5 separate regions of the Homo sapiens genome follow, and regions 2, 3, 4 and 5 are each linked to region 1. Evidence: fine-mapped QTL for protein levels in blood plasma. A gene starts in region 1. Each other region holds a variant in brackets. All regions are shown on one strand. Distances are from middle to middle.

What was found. PIP is the posterior inclusion probability: the model's chance that the variant is causal. The UK Biobank Pharma Proteomics Project read protein levels with antibody pairs (Olink). The fine-mapping took linkage between variants from a reference panel, not from the people measured, so its PIPs are less certain.
Region 2: its variant is fine-mapped to the plasma level of the GUCA2A protein (UK Biobank, PIP above 0.99).
Region 3: its variant is fine-mapped to the plasma level of the GUCA2A protein (UK Biobank, PIP above 0.99).
Region 4: its variant is fine-mapped to the plasma level of the GUCA2A protein (UK Biobank, PIP above 0.99).
Region 5: its variant is fine-mapped to the plasma level of the GUCA2A protein (UK Biobank, PIP above 0.99).

Annotation. Positions count from the first base shown.
Region 1 is chr1:42,161,899-42,167,004 of GRCh38, reverse strand. It overlaps GUCA2A (guanylate cyclase activator 2A), which reads left to right and starts at 2,260. Exons shown (of 3, transcript NM_033553.3): 1 at 2,260-2,367; 2 at 3,395-3,602; 3 at 4,035-4,315. The coding sequence starts at 2,293. The coding sequence ends at 4,099. RefSeq lists an enhancer at 1,436-2,400.
Region 2 is chr1:41,789,412-41,794,517 of GRCh38, reverse strand. The region is part of intron 1 of HIVEP3 (HIVEP zinc finger 3); the gene reads left to right. Among named protein-coding and RNA genes, the nearest start is that of HIVEP3, 130 kb to the left of the region's middle. The variant C/G (reference allele first, on the strand shown) is at 3,189.
Region 3 is chr1:41,884,925-41,890,030 of GRCh38, reverse strand. All of the region lies in intron 1 of HIVEP3 (HIVEP zinc finger 3), which reads left to right. Among named protein-coding and RNA genes, the nearest start is that of HIVEP3, 31 kb to the left of the region's middle. RefSeq lists a silencer at 1,708-1,917. The variant T/A (reference allele first, on the strand shown) is at 2,007.
Region 4 is chr1:41,227,618-41,232,723 of GRCh38, reverse strand. The region is part of intron 1 of SCMH1 (Scm polycomb group protein homolog 1); the gene reads left to right. Among named protein-coding and RNA genes, the nearest start is that of SCMH1, 12 kb to the left of the region's middle. The variant A/C (reference allele first, on the strand shown) is at 3,110.
Region 5 is chr1:41,942,592-41,947,697 of GRCh38, reverse strand. It overlaps a transcript of HIVEP3 not described here. Among named protein-coding and RNA genes, the nearest start is that of HIVEP3, 26 kb to the right of the region's middle. The variant A/G (reference allele first, on the strand shown) is at 2,814.

The sequences.
Region 1 (5,106 bases):
ATACACACATGTCAGCACACACACACCTCAGCACACACACGCACCTCAGTGTATACACACACATCAGCGCACACATACCTCAGCACACACACGCTCCTCAGTGTATACACACACATCAGCACTCACACACACCTCAGTGTATACACACACATCAGCACACACACAGCTCAGCACACACACACACCTCAGCACACACACACACCTCAGTGTATACACACACGTCAGCACACACACACCTCAGCACACATACGCACCTCAGCACACATACGCACCTCAGTGTATACACACACGTCAGCACTCACACACGTCAGCACACACACACCTCAGCGCATACATGCACCTCAGTGTATACACACACCTCGGCACACACACGCACAACACAGCAGATGCACTCAGCTCAGCATACACACACACACCTCAGTGCACATACACACACATATCTCAGTGCATATACACACATGAGCATACACACACACATACCTCAGTGCACATACACACACCCCAGCAGACACCCCAGCAGACACACATCCCAGCAAACACACACACCTCGGTGTACACACACGCGCCTGTGTATATACACACTGACACACACACACCTCGATGTATATATGCACACCTCCTTGCACAGACACAGATACCTTGGTGTACACGGACACACATATACCCCTCAGCATACACACACATACACCTCAGCATATATACACATACACTCCTCAGTGTACACACATGCCTCAGCACACACACACCTTCAGCACAAGCACACATACAAACACACCTTGGCTACACACACCCATCAGGGTATATACAGACACCTTGGCATACACAGACATACACATCTCCGCAGACACACCCCCCCTTAACACACACACACACACACACACACACACACTCACCAGAAAGGGGTGGGAAATCCAGTGCAGCTGTGAGGACTGCCCTGGGAGCTGGGCCAGGAGCTACCTGCCCCTCCCTGAGGGCCTTGTCCCTGCAGTTCCCTCCTGGTCAGGCCCTGCTCTCTCCAATTCCCTCTTCAGTGTTGACTCTCCCCACCCAGGAATTCCTGCCCAACCTCCCGCCCTAGGGCTGTCCTGGCATCGGGCCAGGTTGGCTGAGTAGAAAGATGACAATCCCAGGGCTACCCTTTCTCCTGTGTCCTGGGGATTCCTGCTCACAACAGCACACAGTGAATGCACGCTGCCCTGAGGGCGCAGTCTGAATGGGGTCAGAGTCTATAGGGGCGCGGGCACACCCAAGCAATTCCCCAGTGAGATCCGCGGAAAGGGGACTGTATCTGCAGGGGCAAGGGGGGCGGGCGGATTGGGGAGGAGCTCATTCGAGGACACCCTGAGGCTGCAGGGCAGGCAGGACAGGATGGGGACCAGCACAGGATGGGGACAGCCTGTGACTCAGACAGGCAGGAGGTCACCAGAGGGGCCAGGGAGGACCAGGAGCTGCTGTGGCTGCTAATAATATGGGAATGGACCTCTGCTGAGCACCTTCTGTGTGCCAGGCATTGAGCTAAATGTTTTTAAAACCTCACTTGATTCTCCAAACAGTAATGCCTACCACACACCTACCCCATGAGGTAGGTATTATTTTTGGTTCCCACAGGGGACACAAGGGACAACGAGACTCAGAGAGGGGAAAGCATTGGCCCAAGTTCACACGCCTCACAACTGGGCAGTAGGTGGAACGGAACCCAGGCTGTGCGGAGGGCTTCCTTGAGGTCGCGGCAATCAAACCCAGACCCTGACTTGCCCTGCAGCCTCCCCCGTGGAATTTCTCACATTTCCCTGAATATTCCAGGCCCGTCTCACCTCCTGGCTGTCCCTTTGGCATGAAATGGCCTTCTGTCCTCAGTCCCTTCTCTGGGAAAACTTCCACCCATTCTCCAGAGCTCAGCCCCCAGTGCAGCCCCGTCACCTCATCCTAGGATCACCCCACCCTAATCGCCCTGCGTTTCACTGTCGGGCTGGGCCCCCCTCCTCAAGGGCAGGGTCTGCCGGCCCCACACAGCAGCACAGGGCAGTCGTGAGTGAATGTGCCTTGTTGGTGAATGAATGCAGGACCCAGCCCGGCTGTGGGTCAAAGTAGGTGCTCAGGGAGGGGCCGGGGCCCCCCCTGCCTGGCTCTTATCTCCTAGGGCTGTCTCGAGCCTTATCTGATAAGGCCTGACAGGTGAGCAGATGAGACTGACAGAGGCTTCCAGGTTACTCAGTAACCTGCCCTCTTTAAAAGTCCCGCCGCTTCCCCCTGGCATCCAGAACAGCCACCCCTCTCTCGGGCACTGCTGCCATGAATGCCTTCCTGCTCTCCGCACTGTGCCTCCTTGGGGCCTGGGCCGCCTTGGCAGGAGGGGTCACCGTGCAGGTGAGTCCTGTGTCCCTACCCCGGCCCAGCTGGCTCCCTGCCCCTAGTGCCCAGGTCTGGTCCCCTGAGAGAGTACCTCCTCTTTGGGGCTGGATTGAGGGTGTGTGTCCCAGGCTTGGCCTTCTTCGAGGAGCTCCTGCTCAGTCCAGCCACACACACACCTTTCCCTTCAACTTTGGAGGAGAAAGAAACCCAGTGGAGGGAAGAGGAATAACCATATGGGGAAGGCGGGGAGTTGGCCAATTTACTGAGTGTCCTATGTGCCGGCTCCTTCCCCAGCCCCTCACTGTGGCTCCACTATCAACCTGGAAGAAAGGGATCATTAGTCCCATTTTACAGAGGGGAAAACTGAGCCTCACAAAGGTTCTGTAACAGGCCATGGGCACATGGCTGTGGGAAGTGCAGGAGCTGGATTTAAATCCAGACCTTACTCCTCAGTGGGTCCCAGGAACCACATGGACACCCTGGAGGTCCTGACAGATGGGTATGCCTACCAGTGCCAATGCTGGCGACAGGCCAAGCTGGCACCTAGCGGGGGCCCTGATCTCTATCAAAGCCAGATTCCGGGAGGCCTTTTATTGCTTCTCAAACCAAAACCAGGCTGCAGGCTGGAGCTGGGGGCCCAGTAATCAGCCGCACCGCTCTCAGGCAGGGGAAAGACAGCCTGGGCTTGGCCACGTGGAACTACGATGCCTGGGTGCTGGTCCTTTGCCTCTCCCTAAAAATCAGCACACTGGCTCCTACTCATTAGGCACCTATGGTGTTCCTGGAGCTTCACACCCATTTTCTCCATTCCCCATACAACATGCAGAATTTGCGGGTTCCAGAGTGTCCAGCATCACGGAGCCAAGCCAGGACGTGGGGCCTGAACTCTGCCCCTCACAGTGCCCCACTGTGGATCGCCTGGCTCCCATATGCCACGAACACTGCCTGTGAGCACCACTGGGCTGGACCGGGGCCAGCACGGGGGGCACAGCCAGGAAGCAGGCTGCAGCCTGGCCTCATGCTCTGGGCTTCTCTCTTCCAGGATGGAAATTTCTCCTTTTCTCTGGAGTCAGTGAAGAAGCTCAAAGACCTCCAGGAGCCCCAGGAGCCCAGGGTTGGGAAACTCAGGAACTTTGCACCCATCCCTGGTGAACCTGTGGTTCCCATCCTCTGTAGCAACCCGAACTTTCCAGAAGAACTCAAGCCTCTCTGCAAGGAGCCCAATGCCCAGGAGATACTTCAGAGGCTGGGTGAGCAGCCTCCTTCCTCTCTGATTGGTGGGGTTCGGGAATACTGTGGTGGCACTTGAGGAAGAGATGTGCTCTGATTGGTGGGATTTGGAGGAAGGGCTCAGCTCTGACTGGTGGAACTAGGGAGCTTGGCTCTGATTGGTGGGTCTGTTCCATGCCCACTTCAATTCCAAGTTGTAACTGCTGAGGTTTGGGAACTAAGACCATTCATCTGGTCTTAGTTTCCTCTCTTTCTGGTGGAATCTCTGCTTTGATTGGTTGGTTTGAGTGGTCTGTGTGCCCTGGTTTGGGGCGAAAAGCCCAGTAGGTCAGAGTACGGGCCTGCTGAGATTCTCCTGGGGCTGGGTGGTGACGTACAAGCTCTGGGCCAAGGGCGGCAGGGGCCTCGCGAGGAAATGCTGGTTCTCACGAGGCTCCATCTCTGTTGTGCAGAGGAAATCGCTGAGGACCCGGGCACATGTGAAATCTGTGCCTACGCTGCCTGTACCGGATGCTAGGGGGGCTTGCCCACTGCCTGCCTCCCCTCCGCAGCAGGGAAGCTCTTTTCTCCTGCAGAAAGGGCCACCCATGATACTCCACTCCCAGCAGCTCAACCTACCCTGGTCCAGTCGGGAGGAGCAGCCCGGGGAGGAACTGGGTGACTGGAGGCCTCGCCCCAACACTGTCCTTCCCTGCCACTTCAACCCCCAGCTAATAAACCAGATTCCAGAGTACTCTGGGTGTTGCCTTCCTTCCTTCCTTCATCCCCTAGTCTATCCTGCCCTGGAAGCTCGGGATGTAATGTACTAAGCGAAGGACCCCACTCTCCCTGCTAAGCTGCTCACTGTCCCTGGGGCTGCCACAACACAGAGGCGTGGAGAGGATCTGGATCTCCAAACCACCAAGGCAGCGGGTGGTGGGGAGGGTTTGCTTTTATTTCACATCTCCTGAGGTCACCAAGTTCACTGAGCCACATGTGAGCACGGGAGCCAGTCTGAGCTGGTTTGGACAACCAATACAGGCACTTGGCCCACTAGAAGACTGGCACCAAACTCTTGGGTATTCAAGGACTTGGCTCCCACCAGCCATGCTAGTGTGGCCTCCAGCCCTGACCACATCCCAAACCACACCTCTTGCCATTTCCTCTGCTGCTGCTCACCTCTCCACTGCCCGTCTTCCCACACTACTGTCCAGGCAAACTCCTACTCAGGGTCCAAGGCTTTCATTCCACGGCCTCTCCTCAAGACAACTTGCTCAACCCCCCAGGAAGAGTCTCAGTGCTCCCATTGTGACCTTGACCTTGGTGCTTTCTGGGCACTGTGATCACCCACAACCCTTGCACAGCTGTGGCCACCCTGTTGTGTAATGGCTTCTGTGCCTGGGGAAGTCTCTCTGACCTCCAGACCCACATGGATAATTGCATGAGGATATAAAACAGGGCAGGGGCCCAGCCACAGCTTTTCCAAGTACTGTGTGATCTTTGGAAAGTCACCTTCCCTCTCTGTGCCTCCACCTCTTCCTCTAT
Region 2 (5,106 bases), 370 kb after region 1:
ATCCAAAGGGCATTTTGGCAGTATAAAAGCAAATAGTTCTACATTTTTACCTATAAGTTCCCCTTTCAAGGATTTATACTAGTAAAATAATCACTGATATGGATAAGGATCTACTATGGTTTGGCTCTGTGTTCCCACTCAAACTCACCTTGAATTTTAATAATTCCCACGTGTCAAGGGTGGGGCCAGGTGGAGATAATTGAATCATGGGGGCATTTTCCCCCCTACTGTCATTGTGATAGTGAATAAGTCTCTCGAAATCTGGTGGTTTTATAGATGGGAGTTCCCCTGCACAAACTCTCTTGCCTGCTACCATGTAAGCCGTCCCATTGCTCTTCCTACGTCTTCCACCATGATTGTGAGGCATCCCCAGCCATGTGGAACTAAGTCCATTAAAACTCTTTCCTTTATAAATTACCCAGTCTCGGGTATGTCTTTATTAGCAGCATGAGAACTGACTAATACAGGATTACTTACAAGGATGCTCTTCACTGTATTGTTTGCAATATTAAGAGACTGGAGACAATCTAAATACACAAGAATGTGGGAATTGGTTTTGTAAGTTATGGTGGGTACATCTATGCAGTTATAGATGTGTATATAAAAATATTTCAGTGACAAACACAAAAAATGTTTATAAGAGTATTTTCTGAGTGGTTGGATTACCAGTAATTTTTATTTTCTTCTTTGTGCATTTCTACGTTTTTCAAATTTTCTACACTGATGTTTCTTCCTCAAAGGGCCTATATGCTAAGACCCTTCTGGGCAAGTCACAGTACCTGTGGCTGACATAGTAAAAATTCTGAGTCCTTCCTGCAGGACAGAAATCTTTCTACTTTGGTAAACCAAAATATATTTCCCTGAATATATTTCATCACATGTTTTTTTTCTATTGCTTTATTCCCAGAATTATGCCTAGCATGTAGTAGACATTAAATATATATTTTGTGAATGAATTAATGAATTAATGCTTATGATGTGGTGGGAAAGGCATGGCCCCAGACCCTGGTTCACAGTGCAGCCTCCTCCCACCTGTTCTAATAGCCTCTCCAGTGGATCAGCTTCTCTGCCCCTCTGTGTGTGACCCTAGGAACTTTTGTGGCACCAGTCATAGGAAGCTGAGCTCCAAGAAGCAGGCAGAAGAGTGAGGTAAACCAGATTAAGAGAAGGACCTTTGAAGCAGTCAGAGAACCAGGCTTGAGCCACTTGTAGTGCTCTGCAGATAGAGAGCATCCCTGATGAGACAGGGGGAGCCCAGAAAGTTGGCTCAGGTATCAGGAGCAATTGGCATTCTTGGGGCCAGACTGCATGGATGTTCCAAGAAGCCCCAGAAGGCAGGAGGTCCCAAGTTCCCAGAACCCGAAGTCTTTGTGGTGGCATGTGATTCTGAGTATGTCCACTGCTTCATGGCACACAGTGTATGAGCCTCCCATGACAGGCCACTCCTGTGTGGGCTGATGCTACACTGATCATTAGCTTTCTGGGAGAGTGGCCCAATCGTTCTTCCATATGGTGGCCATTCACATTGGAAAGAGCAGAATCCAGGATCCCCTGAACATTCTCCTCTCCCCACTATTCATCCCATTGCCCTTGAAGGATACAGCTTCCATCCCTGCAGGGCCTTGGGGGAAGCAAGCAATATATTAAAACAGAGCTACTTTAAGTTACTCTGCATTTCTGGCTATGGTTCTGGAAGTTCTCCTTACTTTCTTTATTTTCTGTCCAGTTGTCTTCAGTGTATGCAATGAAGGTGGAGGGAAACTGTCATGTGTATGTTTGAGTGGCCATGGAAGGTGTCCTTTCTCTAAGTCAAGGTCACTGCTAGAGGGAAGGCCCCAGTCAGGGCAGCTCCTGTGAGGCTGCCCCACCTTCCTGCTCACTGGTCTCCTTGCAGCAGCTGTTTCCATGCTCCTTGGCCTTTTGTGGCTGTGGGGAGGGCAGGTTTCAGGATGGTGGCAGCTAAGAGTTTTTCCCTTCACTTTGAGAGCCTCCTGCCTCCAGCTGTGAGTGCCTGCTAAGTATGGCAGGGGAAGGGAAGCAGAGAGGGTCAGATGGTGACAGGCAGCACCACCACGGCTGGAGGAAGTCAGCATCCTAGAGAGAGAAGCTTGAAGGGAGGTTGAGTTGCACATTCATTTACCCACCCAACAGACATTTCCTGGTGCCTCCTAGGGCAGAATATGCTCAAGAGCAAGCCCTTTTGCCCTGCAGGAGCCCCCATCCTCTCCCAAGGACATAGCCCTGCCCCTTGGGCCAGAATCCCAGATGAAACCTTGCCTCAGGGGAACTTTCCCTGAACAACTTTACTTGTGCTCAGTGTTCCCAGGTCCTGGGCTACATGCTGGAGACAAAGATGATTGAAATAGCTCTTGCCTCAAGCAACTCAGGACCTCGGAGGTACAGGTGGATGACTAAATGATGACATGTTAGAGGGTTCATGGTAGATATTTGGGGGCATACGGAGTGGGAGGAATGGTCACTTCTGCCTGGGAGAAGTATAGAGAGTGCATCTGGAAAGGCTTCACGGAGGAGGTGTTCCTTGAGCTGGGTCTGGAAGGCTGAGCAGGTGTTCCCAGGTGGTCTGAGGAGGGATATGGAGGAGAGGGGGAAGGGTGTGATGCCTGAGAAAAGCATGATGCATTGAGGAAACTGAAATTAGATTAGTAGGTGTGGAGTATGGGGTTTGGGGGTGGGGAGGGGAAATGTGTGGCTAGAGAGGTGTGTAGGAGCCAAATCAGGAAATGACTTGTATGTCTGTTATATTGGCTAGGATTCGATTTTCTGCATATAACAACAAACTAAAATAACAGTGGCTTAAACACATAAGAGTTTATCTTCCTCTCTCATAAAAGAACCAAAGGGAGCCAGTCTAGCCTTGGTATATGGTAGCACCACAATATCAGCATTCCCAGGCAACTTCTCTCTTTGGCCTCTCCATCCATAGAGCATGATTTTCATTCTGAAGGTGACCTTGTGTCTAAGATGGCTGCTGGAGCACCAGCCATCACATCCATTATATATAAAAAAACTAGAAAAAGGTGGAAAGGCCATGCAGCCATCTGTGCTCCTTTCAATGAGCCTTCTTGGTAGTTCCACCCAGTGATTTTCACTTACATCTTATTGGCCAGGACTTAGTCACCTAAGCTGCAAGGGATGAGTGGAGGTGGGAGTTTGCAAAACAAAATGCT[C/G]TGTTTCAGCAAAGTGCTAAGGGGTTAGAAGGCATTTACCCAGCAAAGAAAGGAATGCAGTGTTCCAGGGATAAAAAGCAGCTAGTGCACAAATATGCAGGTGCAAAGGAGCCCAAGCTATTGAAGGAACAGTGAGCGGACCTGACTGGCTTGAGTGTAGACTCGTGTGTGTGTGTGTGTGTGTGTGTGTGTGTGTGTGTGTGTGTGTACACATGTGTGCCTGTGCTGTGGGGAGAGAATTATGGATAACTAAGGATGACTACAGGAGAGGGAATGGGGTTAGATGATGAGAGACTGTGACTGCAGTGGTAGGGAGTTTGGACTTTATTCCACAGGAAAGGGTGAATTGTGCAGAGGCTTTCAGGAGGAAGGTTAATTAGATGTGGGTTTTTGCAAGATCAGTCTATACACCAATGTGGGGAAGAAAATGGTACAGGGGTTGGGAGTCAGTATGGATGCATCTTGTCCATGGGGCCATGAGGGAGCATGGGATATGCTAGGACAAGTGTTAGGGACCAAGGAGATAAAGTTGGCTTGATGGGAAGGGGCCACATTGTTGAGGCCTGCAGATTTGCAGTGGTAAGAAACAGGGAGTGGCTGAAGGTTTTGTAGTCAGAGAGTGATGGGTGAACTCACAGATAGATAAAGAGCTTCCTACGTAAGGATTCTCCCATATCTTTGGCGGGAGGTACTTGCTCTTGCTCTTAGAGGAAGAAGAAAGGAAACTCACATTTAATCCTCACATTCTGTGCACTAGATTTACCACCTCTTATCTCAGTTTGTACATCTGAAAACAGAAGCACAGAGAGATTAAGCAACATTTCCAAGGTTACATGGTGTGTTAATCTGTTTGTATTGCTATAAAGTAATATGCGAGGCTGGGTAATTTATACAGAAAAGCGGTTTATTTGGCTCATGGTTCTGCAGGCTATACAAGAAACATGGTACTAGCACTGGCTACTGGTGAGGGCTTCAGGCTGCTTCCACTCATGGTAGAGGGCAAAGAGGAGCTGGCATGTTCAGAGATCCCATGGTGTGAGAGGGAGCAAGAGAGAGAGGGGAGGTGCCAAGCTCCTTTTGACAACCAGCTCTTGAGGGATAGGTTACCAAGCCATTCATGAGGGATCCACCCCATGATCCAAACACCTCCCACTAGGCCTTACCTCCACCACTGGGATCCAATTTCAGCATGAGATTTGGGGGAATGAACATCCAAATCATAGCACGCAGTTAAGAAGTGGCAGAGCCAGAGAAGCCAGTTCCACCAGCCTCTCTGACCCTGGAGTCAGAAAGTAGCACCTGACCCTGTTTTGTAAAGGAGTTGCTTTTACTCCATGGGATTATCTTGTTTGACATGGCAGAGGATTTGACCTGGGTGTTACGTGTGATCCTGTCTGATGACAAGCTGTCTATGCATAAGCTGCTTTTGTGTGTACTTATTTAAATGTGACCTTGATGAGTCTGTTGAGGGGGCAGAATGACAGGACAGGGAGGACAGGGCATGGGGCAACTGTCTGGTCCCAACCCAGCCGGTGACTACATTGTTGACCAAGGTCTCAGCTCACTACTTCCTGTTTAGAGTTTCCTCCTTATAGAACTAGAGGGCTCAGACTAGATCAATAGCTCCCAAATAGTCTGTGTGCCCCATCTTGGCAATTCATGACACACTAGCCTATCACCTACACTAGTATTTATTTATGTTCTTTAAATATGTTTACATTGATTTGTTTACTTAGCTTTGACCTAAACAATAAGGTCTGCCAAATTATGAGCTTGATTGTAATTTTCCGTAGGTCATTTTAAATTTTCTGTAGGTCATATTAAAATAAACTCATAACCATCACTTCTTAGCATTCTGGCTAAGATCAAGTGTAAAATAAACTCACAGCTGCAAATAAAATGCTAAAATTGGTTTTCA
Region 3 (5,106 bases), 280 kb after region 1:
ACATCTGTTTCAGAATCTGTTCTCTTAACCACTGTGCTGTCACTTGAGTTGTTCATTGGATGGTGAGCAGATGGGGCAATGTTATTATGGTTAAACTATTATTGTTAATTCCGGGCAAGCCACTTGCCTTTCTAGGCCTGCTTCTTTGTTCATTAAGTGGGGAGCAGGGTTCTTGTGAGGATTAGATGGGAGTGATGAGTATAAAGGAGACTGCAAACCCTATCCAGAGCCATCACCTTGGGAGTGTCACCGTGGTAATCAGAGTCCGTTATTCCTACAGGAGCTCCATCCACAACTGCTCTGCAGGGGACAATGGGTGCCCTCATTCCCCACAGGGCTCCCTACCCTCTCCATCGATACACACTAACATATGGGAAATGAAGGCCCACCCTGCCGGGCTTTCATACTCTAGAATGCGTGAATTTTTGCTCTTGGCAGCCCATTAAAAGGGCTAGAGTCCCCCATGCTGTCCTTTGATGGTGGAATACAGGAGAGTTTAACCTCAGGCCCTGCAGGAGAGTTGAGGCAAGGTGTCCCTCCAGTCCCAAGGAGAAGGGGGTGCTGCCCTTCAGACTCTGCGTAGGTCTGGAATGGCAGTGGCTTTTGGGTAATGAGGTGGCAGTGTCGGGGACATTGAGAAGGTGGATGATGTTATTGTCAGTGACTCCACAACTCCTGCCTTTTGATATTCCAGCCACGTAAAGCTGCAACTAAGGTTTCCCAGCAAAGACTTGGAATGCAAAGCACACTTTAAAGTGTGTGAGTTTGTGTGTAGCAGGGGATGTGGGGTGGGACTGTGTGAGGTGTGGGGTGTGTGGTGTATGTGGTGTGTGTGTGTGTGAGATATGTGTGTTTGTGAGGTATATGGAGGTGTGTGTGATGTGTGAGGTATGTGGGGGGTGTGTGTGTGGTGCTTGTGTGTGTTTGGTGTGTGAGGTATGTGGCGTATGTGTGGTGTGTGTGGTGTATGTGTTGTGTGGTGTGTGTGTGTGTGTGTAGCGTGTGAGGTATGTGGTGTGTGTATGTGGTATGTGGTGTGTGTGTGGCATGTGTGGTCTTTGTGTGTGTGTGTGGCATGTGTGGTCTTTGTGTGTGTATGTGGCATGTGGTGTGTGAGGTATATGGTGTACGTGTGTGGGGTATGTGTGTGAGGTATGTGGTGTGTGTGTGAGGTATGTGGTATGGGGGCATGTGTGTGTGGTATATGTGTGAGGTATGTGGTGTGTGTGTGTTTGGTATGTGTATGAGGTATGTGGGGGTGCGCATGTGTGAGGTATGTGGTGTGGGGGGCATGTGTGTGTGTGGTATGTGTGTGGGGGGTGTGAGGTATATGGTGTGTATGTTGGGGGGTACATGAGGTATGTGATAACTGATTCTGGAGCTAATTTATCCTCCTTATTCTGTCAGGTGTGATCTGAATCATTTCCTTGGCTCACATCTGATGATGCCCTTATTCTCTACAAGGCCTAACACCTCAGTCACTTTAGGTTCTATTTCCTTTTTCCCCCTCTTTGGCCCCTTCTCAGCTGGGCTGTCCCTCTCTTCTCTCTGGATAGGCCTTCCTTTCTCCTCCTTCTCCTCTCTCCTCACATATCGGCCACACTCACCTGCAAACACTCTTCTTGAGAAGAAGGGCTTAGATATGTCTTAGTAAAGACTGTTTAAAATCAGCTGGGCTAGGCCGGGCGTGGTGGCTCATGCCTGTAATCCGAGCACTTTGGGAGGCCAAGGTGGGCAGATTACGAAGTCAGGAGATTGAGACCATCCTGGCTAACATGTTGAAACCCCATCTCTACTAAAAATACAAAAAAAAAAAAAAAAAAAAAAATTAGCCGGGCGTGGTGGTGGGTGCCTGTAGTCCCAGCTACTTGAGAGGCTGAGGCAGGAGAATGGCGTGAACCCAGGAGGCGGAGCTTGCAGTGAGCTGAGATCACGCCACTGCACTCCAGCCTGGGCGACAGAGACTCAGTCTCAAAAAAAAAAAAAAAAAAAAGTTCAGCTGGGCT[T/A]AACAGTAGAGCCTGGGGTGGGGGTGTGATGGGAGCATTCTATATCTCCACTGTCTGACTCAGAAACCACTGGCCACATGTGGCTATTAAGTATTTAAAACGTGGTTACTGCAACTGAAGGACTGGATTTTTTATTTCATTTCATTTTTATTAATTTAAATAGCCGCATGTGGCCAGGACCACCATTTTGGACAGTGCAAGTTTAGGGAATGTGACACCCAGAAGAATCAAACCAGATTCAATTATATTGTTTGGGGATTTGGGGCTATTTATCTTTAATCTGGGCACTTGGTTTTAACAGAGTCGGGATTTGTCAGTTGCATACTCAGGTCTTCAGAAAACCTCTTGCTGTCTGCTCAGGTGAGGTAGAAGCCACATGTGCTGGCTGCAGTGATGGTATCCAGTTTACAAATTCATCATCCTTTGACCTTCTCCACTAGCACCCTGACCCTTGTAGCCCAGGCTGCCCTATGGATGACTGGGCACAAATGTGTGAAGTTCAGGGGATCCCAAAGTCAGGGACCAAGTTCTCTAGTCCTGGGTCTGCCACTTCCTGGCTGGGAAAGTTATTTCACCTCCAGGGATGGGTTGAGATTTTGTAGGGCTTGAAGTTTAAGCAACTGGGGGACCTCTTTAAGAAAAAGAATATAAAATTACAAATACAAAATTAGGTACCATGGTGAATATTTATTTAGAATAAGAAAATAAATCACATTCAATATACGTTTTTAAAACCTGACATGTATCACAAACTTTATAAAATCCAGAAAAATAACAAAATATTTTTATTATTTGCCTGTGAAACCTCCATAATACTTTTTTCCCTGAATATATTTTGGCTGAATACACTTTGATCACCTCTTCATATGATAGTGATTTTGTAATTTTTCTAAAGGGAGGTTGCAAAGAAAATTTAGCTTTTCTTCTAGCATGACTGACAATATTTATTTTTTATTATTGATAGTTACATTGCATAAAACATGGCTTCAGACACAGACATCCACTTTTTTTTGTTTTACTGCCATAGGTTTGGGTCCTACAATACAGGAATTTTGATAAAATATATTTTGTGTAATTCCCACCAAAAAGGGGGAAAATGTCTGGTATATTTATAACTGTATTCATTATATTATCAAATACATTTCTGATAGGAGAAAACTTTCTTTTTCGAATAGGCATCAGTGAAAACTAAATTTTCCTTCAATTCCACATGTCCAAAGACTGGAAGAAAGTTCTATGCTCTAGCTTCTGGCTCTGTATAGTTCTTTTTTCTTTTCTTTTCCTTCTTTTTTTTTTTTTTTTTTTTTTTTTTGAAATGGAGTTTCACTCTTGTTGCCCAGGCTGGAGTGCAATGGCGCGATCTCAGCTCACCACAACCTCCGCCTCCCAGGTTCAAGCAATTCTCCTGCTTCAGCCTCTCGAGTAGCTAGGATTACAGGCATGTGCCACCACACCCAACTAATGTTGTATTTTTAGTAGAGACAGGGTTTCTCCATGTTGGTCAGGCTGGTCTTGAACTCCCGACCTCAGAGGATCCGCCTGCCTCGGTGTCACAAAATGCTGGGATGACAGGTGTGAGCCACCGCACCCGGACCGCTCTGTATATTTCAATCCTATTTTTTCTCCCCTATTTTTATGTCTCAGGTGCCAGGTATTGCACCTTTGAGTCTCAAAGCCATTGAGTTGTGGAAAGCTTAGCACTGGAAGCCATGGGGACAGCTAACAATCACTTGACTTTGCATTAACGTGACTGTGAACAATAGACATAAATCCCACTACACCCAAACTAAATTTATCCCCAAATTAACTTTCCCTTATGCTGGATCCCAAAACACCTATAGCTACTGTAACACCATTCAATATGAACATGAGGGGAAATGTATCAGGAGGAGACATCAGAGTTGAAAGATACAGTGCTCTTCATCAATTGCAGTTAAAATATCTTACTACTGCAAATTTCATTTAAAAATTACATGATTCTAAGAATATATTGCTAGGGCCTTGAAAGGGGTCCATGCTGGCAGGGCCCTGAAACTTTCTTCCTTAGCATCACAGTAAATCTGCACCTCACTGCTCTGAGCCTTGGGGTCTTCATCTTTAAAATGGGAAGAATAGGATCCATTTTATAGAATTATCATGGGTATTCAGTGTGCTATATTTGAAAGCTCGTTTACCTTGTGCCTGGGAAAGAAGTGCTCAGAAATAGGAAGGAAGGAGGGAAGAAGGGAGGGAGGGAGGGAATGAAAGGAAAGGAAGGGAATGGAAGGGAAGGGGGAAGGGAAAGGGGAAGAGGAGGGGGAAGGGAAGGAGGAAGGGAAGGAGGAAGGGAAGGAGGAAGGAAGGAAGGATTTTATTTTATTTTTTGACGGAGTCTCACTCTGTCACTCAGGCTGGAGTGCAGAGGTGATCTCAGCTCACTGCACCCCCTGCCTCTTGGGTTCAAGTGATTCTCATGCCTCAGCCTCCGCGTAGCTGGAACTACAGGCATGCACCACCATGCCCAGTTAATTTTTATATTTTTAGTACAGACAGGGTTTCCCCATGTTGGCCAGGCTGGTCTCAAACTCCTGACCTCAAGTGATCTGCCTGCCTCAGCCTCCCAAAGTGCTGGGATTATAGGCATGAACCACTGTGACTGGCCCTTTTTTTTTTCCTAGCCATCTACTTCGAGTACAGTGGCCTGCTTTGAATTCAGTGGCCCCCTACCACTGAGCAGCCCTAGGGGATCCCTAACCCAAATAAGAAATGGGGCTGGAGAGCAGGAAACGGAAAGCTCACATGAATGAGAGCACCTAAGGGTACTTTGAGTGGTCAGAACTTGGTATTTTTTCTTGAACCAAGTCTTACTGCTCATGACTTTCCTATGCCATATGATTCAGGGAGATTGTGCCTGAGTTATGTGAAGCTCAGAGGAGATTCTGAGCAATATGAGACTGGAACATGGTTCTCAGCTGGTGCAGAGCTTGTATAATAAGGGACTGCTCTGTGGAGAGCATGGGTACTGGATGCCTTTGGAATTTGACAGCTGTATCCAATCCTCCGCAACAAAATTCCACAGTCAGACTTAGATATCCTTGGATCTGAAGAGGAATGGTTGGGC
Region 4 (5,106 bases), 930 kb after region 1:
TGTCAAATATGTTGAAACGTATAAACACGTTATTTTTACCCACCTGCATATAGGTAGTATCACCTCTATTTTATACATAAAGAAACTGAGACTCAGAGATAGCTGGCCAAGATTATGCAGTTTATAAGTAATAGGACTTGGTTTCAAGCCCAGACCAGCCTGACTTCAACCCCAGTCCTCTTTTCATTTCACCATATATGTGCCCCACAGCAGTGTTATGTAATTCTGAGACTTTATCAGTACAGGAGGCAAAGTTTACTTGCAGGAATTGACACATATATTTTTAGTCTGAATATATCTTCTATCTCACCAAACAATGTCGGCAAACAAAAGATCCCTGGTTAGAAGAATGAAATGGTTTAGCAAATCAAAGTCATATTTATTTTTTAATTTGAGCAGATATATGACTAGATTCCTCGTTAGGATCAGTGCTCATATTTTAATAAATTATAACATTTCTGTACCCCTTCAACCTTTGGTTTGCAGTTTTTCAACCTTTACCAGCTACATACTAAGGATAAAAAGGTGAGAATAAGATAGGGTTTCTTCCCTCAGTGGGTTTTACTATTTAGGTGACAGATATAATAACTTTACCTAAGATCTCTTCCTCCCCAAAAGCCATAACCTGAGTCTAATCATGAGAAAACATCAGATAATCCCAACTGAGGTACATTTTATAAAATTTCTTTTTTTTTTTTTTTTGAGACAGTCTTGCACTGTCACCCTGGCTGGTGTGCGGTGTGTGAGATCTTGGCTCGCTGTAACCTCCACCTCCCTGGGTTCAAGCGATTCTCCTGCCTCAGCCTCCTGAGTAGCTAGGATTACAGGTGCCTACCACCACACCCGGCTAATTTTTTGTATTTTTAATAGAGACCGAGTTTCGCTATGTTGGCCGGGCTGTTCTCGAACTCCTGACCTCGTGATCTGCCCGCCTCTGCCTCCCAAAGTGCTGGGATTACAGGCGTGAGCCACCACACCTGGCCTATAAAATTTCTAATACTCCACAAAACTGTTAAAGTCATCAAACAAGGAACGTTTGAGAAAGTGTCAGCCAAGAAGAGGCTAAGAAGACATAATGACTAAATATAATGTAGCATGGTATACTGGATGGGGTCCTGTCATAGAAAAGTAATCTCAGGTAAAAATTAGGGAAGTCTGAATAAAGTGTGGACTTTAGTTAATAAGGTATCAATATTGGTTCATGAATTGTAACAAATATGCCATACTAATGTAAAATGTTAGTAGTAGGGGAAATAGTACAGGGTATATGGGAGCTATCTGCAGTTTTTCTGTAAATCTAAAACTGTTCTAATAGAAAAAGTTTATTTTTAAAAAGTTATAATAAAATTATTCTAATTTTAGATGTTATTTCTTTGAGATTTAATTAAAACATATTTCTTCATAAAATGATGTGCCTAATTTAGTTGACTCATTTGATAATGACTGACAAACTGCAGTTTGTTGATAGATGCATGTGCCAGAATGTATACTAGGTGGATGTCATATGAACTTTTTCTGCCTCAGTTTCTTATGTATATAGTGTCAAAAACATGCCAAGTCCTAGTAATAGTGAATCCCAGTACAAAATAGACCACAGTTTGATCAGCTGTCTCATAGCATATTATAAAGACGGCCAACCTCTTAACATGGTATATAGAATTCTACTGTTCTGTTCTCAACTTTGATCCAGTCAATTCTGTGTTTTAGGGACTATCATTTGTGCCACTCCCACAAACCAATTTCTAATCATATGGGGTTCTTTAATTTGCAAGCAATAATAATCTACTCTGGTTAACTTCGTTTGTAGCAGCAAGTCCCAAACCTTGTTGAATATCAGAATCGCCTGGAGAAATTTTTAAAATTAAAAGTACCATGTGCCAAAAAAATTATATTGAATTGGGATCTCTAAGGGGATAGAACATAGGAATTAATATTTTCTAAAAGCTCTCTAAGTAAGTCTGATACTTACTCATTGTTGCCAGTTTCAGTGAACAGCCCCCTAATTCATCTATTTGTTCAGGCCTAAAATCTGAGAATCATTTCTTTAATTTTTTTTTTTTTTTTAAGACATAGGGTCTTGCTTTGTTGCTCAGGCTGGAGTGCAGTGATGCGATCATAGCTCACTGCTGCCTTGAATTCCTGGGCTCAGGGGATCCTCTTCCCTCAGCCTTCTGAGTAGGTAAGACCTCAGGCGTGTGCTATGGAACCCAGCTAATTTTTAAATTTTTATTTTATAGGGATAAAGTCTTGCCATCTTGCCCAAGCTAGTCTTGAACTCCTGGGCTCCAGTGATCCTCCCGCCTCAGCCTCCTGAAGTGCTGGGATGGTGCCTGGCTGGGAATCATTTGTTAAATTATCTTTTCTCCATTTTTAGTTCATTGCTGATACCCCTTAGGACTACATCCTAAATATCTAAAGAATCTTTCTACCCCTCCCTCACCACTTCCTTCATTCTAGTCTAAGCCACCATAGTTCTTCTTTTGGACCATTATATCAACCCCCTATATGGCTTTCGTGTGTCTACTTTTGTACCCTATCCTCCACCAATGCGGTCACCACAGATCAGATCATATCTCTGCCTAAAATCCTTCAGTGGCTTTCCATTGCATTGGATATACAAATGATATTTTCCCTTGTGGTCTACATGATATGGAGACTACCTTCTTAGCCTCACATAGTGCCACCATCCCCTAGCTAAGTTCTAGTTACATTGGCTCCCATTTCATTTCTTGAAGATGTGAAGCTCTTTCCTGTCTCTCAGACTTGGCACATACTGTTTCATCTGCCTGGGAGAGTCTTCCCCTGACTCTTGATTCATTCTTAAACATTACCTCCTCATAGAGGCCATACTGACTGCCCTTCCACAGTCACTCTGTTAATTCTGTTATAGCACTTAATCACAACATGTAATTATTTATTTGCTTACTTGTTAAGTTCCATGAGGACATGAGGGCAGGGGTCTTGCCAATCTTATTTTTTTTTTAATTATACTTTAATTTCTAGGGTACATGTGCACAATGTGCAGGTTTGTTACATAGGTATACATGTGCCATGTTGGTTTGCTGCACCTATTAACTTGTCATTTACATTAGGTATTTCTCCTAATGCT[A/C]TCCCTCCCCCAGCCCTCTACCCTCCGACAGGCCCTGGTGTGTGCTGTTCCCCTCCCTGTGTCCAAGTGTTCTCATTGTTCACTTCCCACCTGTGAGTGAGAACATGCAGTGTTTGGTTTTCTGTCCTTGTGATAGTTTGCTCAGAATGATGGTTTCCAGCTTCATCCATGTCCCTACAAAGGGCATGAACTCATCCTTTTTCATGGCTACATAGTATTCCATGGTGTATATGTGCCACATTTTCTTAATCTAGTCTATCATTGATGGACATTTGGGTTGGTTCCAAGTCTTTGCTATTGTGAATAGTGCCGCATTGCCAATCTTATTCTTATATGTGACTCCTATCACAGTGCATGGCATATAATGCATTCATTAAAAAGTTAAATGAATTAATGAATCTTTTTTTTTTTTGGTAGGGGGTTGGAGTTTTGCTCTTGTTGCCTAGGCTGGAGTGCAATGGCACAATCTTGGCTCACTGCAACCTCCACCCCCTGGGTTTAAGCGATTCTCCTGCCTCAGCCTCCCAAGTAGCTGGGATTACAGGCATGTGCCATCATGCCTGGCTAGTTTTTGTCTTTTTAGTAGAGATACGGTTTCACCGTGTTGGTCAGGCTGGTTTCGAACTCCTGACCTCAGGTGATCCACCCACCTTGGCCTCCGAATGAATGAATCTTAACTGCCACCAACCTGGTCCAAGCTTCTGTCATCTCTCTTCTGAATTACTGCAGTTGCATCTGAACACTTTGCCTACAACTGCTCTGGGTCCCCTTTAATCATCTTCCACGTTGCTTTCAGGGTTAAATATTTAAAATTTTAAGTCTGATAATTATACTATTCTCTCTACATTCCTTTCTTTTTTTTTTTCCCCAAGTCAGGATCTTGCTCTGTCACCCAGGTTGAGTGCAGTGATGTGATCACGGCTCACTGCAGCCTCCTAAGTACCTGGAACCACAGGTGCGCACCATCACACCCAGCTAATTTTTTTTTTTATTTTGTAGAAATGGGGTCTCACCATGTTGCCAGGGCTGGTCTTGAACTCCTAGGCTTAAGTGATGCTCCCACCTCAGCCTCCCAAACTGCTGGGATTACAGGCGTGAGCCACTGTGCTTGGCTCCTTACATTGTTTATATGCTTCCTGCTGGTCTTAATGTAGCTTATAGAATGTTTTCTTTAATTATTTTTTAATTGTGGTAAAATATATGTAACATAAAATTTGCCATTTCAACTATTTTTAACAGTACTAAGTATAGTCACATTGCTGCGCAACCCTCATCACCATCCATCTCCAGAACTTGTTTCATTTTGTTAAACTGAAACTCTATCCATTAAACAATAATTATACATCCCATTGTGGAGTCCCAATAAGTAAGCAGCAAAGAGGAAGGAGCCACAGGTAGGGGAGAACAATGAACAATTGTTCTGAGAGACGGCTAATTACAAACAACCACTGGCACAACTACCTTGTCCTCATAGCCCCCTCCAGCATGACCCTGTAAAACTTCCCTCCAGTCCTTGCCTCTTTGTAGACAGCCCTTTCTCTGCTGTGCTGCCTATTGCACCTTTGCAACATATTTTCATACTTTCTCTAATAAATCTGCCTCCTTTTGTTTTGTTTTTGTTTTGTTTTTGAGACAGAGTCTTGCACTGTCGACCAGGCAGGAGTGCAATGGTGCAATCTCAGCTCACCAGCTCACTGCAACCTCCACCTCCAGGGTTCACATGATTCTCCTCCCTCAGCCTCCCAAGTAGCTGGGATTACAGGTGCACACCACCATGCCTGGCGAATTTTTTGTATTTTTAGTAGAGACGGGGTTTCACTATGTTGGCCAGACTGGTCTTGACCTGACCTCATGATCTGCCCGCCTCGGCTTCCCAAAGTGCTAGGATTACAGACGTGAGCCACTGCGCCCAGCCAAATCTGCCTTTCTTTACCTATAACTGTCTTGGTAAATTTCTTTACCACTTGTGACATAGGCCCCAGCTAGTTGCACCCATG
Region 5 (5,106 bases), 220 kb after region 1:
TTTCTGTTTTTCCTGTGACATATAAAGAAAAGTCTTGCCCCATTAGCAAGCTTAACACTGGGGCTTGGGTTAGGGCCTTCTTTAGGACCTAGAAAGCCACTTCTGCTTCAAGTGTTCATCTTACTAAATGGGTATTGGCTTTCTGAGTTTCCTTAATTAGTGTATGTAATGGCCTGGCTATTTTGCCATACCTGGGAATCCATATTCGGCAGAAGCCTGTTATGCCAAGGAATGCTCTTAGTTGCTTTAGGGTTTTGGGATGAGGATAAGCCAGTATGGGCTGGATACAGTCCTCACTGAGGGCCCTGGTGTCTTTGGATAATTTTAGCCCGAAGTATTTAACCTGTTGTGAGCAGAGCTGAGCCTTTGGTTTGGAAACCTTGTAGCCACAGGTGGCGAGGAAATTAAAGAGCGCTTGGGTGGCTTGATGGCACAAGGTTTCTGAACGGGTGGCTAAAAGTAAATCATCCACATACCGAAGGACAAGAGTGTCCAGGTATGAGAACTGGCTCAAGTCTTGGGCTAATTCCTGGCCAAATAGATGGGGTCTATCCCTGAACCCTTGGGGTAAAACAATCCAGGTGAGTTGAGATGTTGGGTTTGAAGGATCTTCAAAGGCAAACAAGAAGTACAGGGATGCAGAAAAAGGCATCTTTAAAGTCCAGGACTGTAAACCACTCTGTTTCCTCTGGTATTTGGGAAAGCACAGTATAAGGGTTAGGTACAGCTGGGTATAGAGGAACAACGGCCTCATTGATAATCCTGAGATCTTGTACTAGCCTCCACTGTCCGTTGGGTTTCTGTACTCCTAAAATTGGAGTATTGCAGGGGCTACTGCATGGTTTTACTAGGCCTTGGGCTTTTAGGTCCTTAACAATCTTTTGAGTCCTTGTAGGGCCTCGGGTCTAAGAGGGTACTTCCTTTGGTAGGGAAAGGAGGCAGAATCCTTTAGTTTAACTTGAACAGGACGGGCATTCTTTGCTTGTCCATATTGTCCTTCTATTGCCCAGACTTCAGGATTAATTCCTTCCTCAAGCAGGGGACAGCAAATGGGTGTTCCTTTTCCTATGTTCAGGTGTATAATGGCCCCTGCTTTTGCTAGAATGTCTCTCCCTAACAAGCGAGTGGGGCTTTCAGGCATAATTAGAAAAGCATGTGAAAAGAGTAAAGTTCCCCAGTCACAACTTAGTGGCTGAGAGAAGTATGTAGTGACTGGCTGTCCTAGGACCCCCTCGGATAGTGACAGATCTGGAGGACAATTGTCTGGGACAGGAAAGTAAGACTGAGAAGGCTGCGCCAGTGTCCAGGAGACAGTTAACTTCCTGGCTCTCAATGGTCAAACATACCCGGGGCTCTGAGGGTGATGGCATGGGCTGGCACTTGCCCCGGGCACCCTCAGTCCTGCTGCTGGATCATCAGGTTAGTGGCTTCTGACTCAGAGGACCTTCGTCCCCTGGGGCAGTAGGCCTTCCAGTGATTCCCTTGACATAAGGGGCATGGACGAGGGGCGGCTTATTTCTACTTGGACAATCTTTTCTAAAGCGTCCTTGTAGACTGCACTGGAAGCAAGCCCTATTAGGCATTCAATTTGCCCAGCTTTTCCCGTTTCCAGAGCCTCCAAAGTCCACTTGCCTGAGGGCCATGACTAAAGCGGTGGCCTTTTTTTAATCCCGTTTGTCCCGTTCCGCCTGCTTCTCCTGACCTCTATTGTAAAAATCTGAGGTTGCCAAGTTCAGTAGGGTTTCTAAGTTTTGCTCTGGGCCTAAGGCAGACTTTTGAAGTTTTTTTCTAATGTCTGCAGCTGACTGAGTGATAAACTTATCCTTTAAGATTAGTTGGCCTTCAGTAGAGTCAGGTGACAGAGAGCTATGCTTCCTCAATGCCTCCCTTAGTCTCTCCAGAAAGGCGGTAGGATTTTCTTCCTTTCCATGTATTATAGTGGACATCATTGAATAATTCATGGGCTTCTTCCTAGTTTTCTTTAGTCCTTCTAGCATGCAAGTTAGCAAATGTCTGCGGCACCAATCTCCATGTTCTGATTCTGTGTCCCAGTGAGGGTCTACACTGGGAACTGCCCGCTGGCCTGAGGGGAATCGTTCTCTTTCCTCTGTTGTCATCCTATCATTGACCTGACTGAGATACCAGAGATCACCAAACTCTCGGCCTGCAGTTATGGCGGCACTTCTCTCATTTGAGGTTAGTGTCTGATTTAGCAGTAACATTATATCTCTCCATGTCAGATCAAAGGATTGTCCTAACCCTTGTAAAACATCAATATAGCCATCAGGGTTATCTGAGAATTTACCTAGGTCTATTTTAATTTGCTTTAAGTCTGAGAGAGAAAAAGGTACATGCACTCTGCTGGGCCAAATTCTCCTCCTCCCACAGCTTGGAGGGGGCATAATTGGAGACTATTGGCACTCTTTGGTTCATTGTTTACCCCTTTGTCTATCTCCTTTTGTACCGTTTGGGTTGAAGGCGGGGTCCTTATTAGTTGGGGAAGGAGTCAGGGGGATGCTGAGGTAGGGAGGTAGACTCTGAAGGCTTCCTGTAGGGCATAAATCACACTTTTTACATAATTGTGAGTTGTCTCTTAATGAAAAGAAAGTTTGTACATATAGCACTTCACTCCATTTACCTTCTTTTCTACAAAAGAGGTCTAGCTGTAAGATGGGGTTATAATTTATACTTCTCTCAGGAGGTCAGGTTTCTCCCCCTTGAAGAGGATATTGTGGCCAGGCAGTACTGCAGAGGAATATAAATCGTTTCTTTCTTAGCGTCTGAGGGTCAAATTGGCCCCAGTTCTCCAGAAT[A/G]TATCTTCAGGGTGTTTTTGCCTTGGGGGGAATGTTTCCCATCTGAAAAAAGAACACAGGGATGCCAGCACCCCTAGTCATTTTCCGATGAGCATTAGTCCTAGAGCGTCCTCTATGGTCCTAATGCTTTTTCCTTTCCAGGGTGCATCACCACCCATGGACCTCTGCTTATCGGATTAGTGATGCTCACTGATGTAGCAGTCCTGCATCCCTTTTCCTGCCTTTCTTGACCACAAAGAAAGGGATCCGGGCTGCTGGATTCCAGTGGTCCTTTACCAGTGTGTCCAACATTGCGTTTGTGCTCAGGGGTGAGTCCTAGAGCTGGGCTGGGTTCCTGAGTATTTCATAGCAACCCAGCTGCCCCGTCAAGATGCATTCCCATAAACAACAGTTCTTATGCAAATTCGTTTCAGAGAGAGTGTAGGTAACATGGTACCATGTTCTAAGCAAAAAGCCGTCTCTTCCCTAGGTGATCCTTAATGGCTCTGGAGAGGATAGCCTTGGTTAAAACTTTGTTACATTAATAAAAGGAGCCAATATTAAAAGATATTCCCAAATGTCTTGTTTTCCTTGTTAAAATTGTTTTTAATTGTGACAAAATACACATAACAAAATTTACCATTTTAACCATTGTTAAGCATACAGTTCAGCGGCATTTAACACCTTCATATTGTGCAACCTGGTACTATCCTTCTCCAGAACATTTTATATCTTACAAAATTAAAACTGGACTTATCAAACAATAACTCCTACTTCCTCTCACCTCCTGCCCAGTCCCTGGCAACCATCATTCCACTTTCTGTCTCTATGAATTTTATTACTCTAAGTACCTCATATAAGTGGAATCATTCAGTATTTGTTATTTTGTGACTGACTTATTTAACTCAGCACACTGTCTTTAAGGTTCATCTGTGTAGTAGCATGTGTCAGAATTTCCTTCCTTTTTAAGGCTGAATAATATTCCATTGTATGGATATACCACATTTTATTTATCCATTCATCTGCTGATGGATATCAGATTGCTTCAATTATTTTTTCTGTTTTGTAACTAGAAAGTTACTCTTTAGCCAGATATTTTACATATTATCAAAAAGCTATGGCTTCCTTGAATTCTTCAGAATAAACATAAAATTTCCTGCCAATAACTTTCAGATGCCATAACCGTACTAATTTATGTTCTGGTAATAACTCTAGACACTGAGAATTTTAGGTTTCAAAAATAAATCAGAACTAGATTCCATTCTCAAAGAAGTATGGTCTAGCTGGCAAAATAAATTAGGCACACAGATAATGTTAATAGTTTGTCTGTGTGTAGAGAAGATGGAGAAGGGGGCCTCAGAAAGTGAAGTGGGAATATTTGGCTGGGCAGACTAAAGAGATCATTGAATTCAGGCTCAGGAATTTGGAGTCAAGGTAGGTAGTGGGAAGCCACTGAGTATTTCAGATTGTTTTGATTTTTATAGATTACTTTGTTTCTTTTCTATTTAATTTTTTAAAATTATGCAAAACATTTACATGATTTTGAACTTAAAACTATAAAATATGATACATTCAAAGAGATCCAGCTTCCACCTAAATCCTCTTCCCATTGTTCTTTCCTTTCTCCTATAGGTAACCCATTTTATTAATTTTTGGTTTATCTTTCCATTTCTTCTTTTTGAGAATATAAGCAAATATGTGGCTGGGCGTGGTGGCTCATGCCTGTAATCCCAGCACTTTGGGAGGCCGAGGCAGGTGGATCACGAGGTCAGGAGATCAAGACCATCCTGGCTAACATGGTGAAACCCGTCTCTACTAAAAAATAAAAAAAATAAAAAATTAGCTGGGCGTGATGGCGGGCGCCTGTAGTCCCAGCTACTTGGGAGGCTGAGGCAGGAGAATGGTGTGAACCCGGGAGGCCGAGCTTGCAGTGAGCCAAGTTCATGCCACTGCACTCCAGCCTGGGCGACAGAGCGAAACTCCGTCTCAAAAAAAGAAAAAAAAAAGAAAATATAAACAAATATGTATATATCTTCCTGTTTATATTAAAAAGTAGCATATTATGTTCATTCTTCTGAATTTTGTATTTTCACTTACATTCCTTCATAGCAATATATAGAGATTTTCCTCACTCCTTTCTGTGTCTGAGAATTATTCATATAATTCTCAGTTTTATGAATGCAACTAGTCCCTAATTCATGAACATTTGGGGGTTGTTTTCATTTATTTACTATTACAAATTGTGTTTTGACAAATAGCTTTGTGCATGTATCATTTTACATATTGCTAGTGTGTCTTTGGGATAGATTCCTAA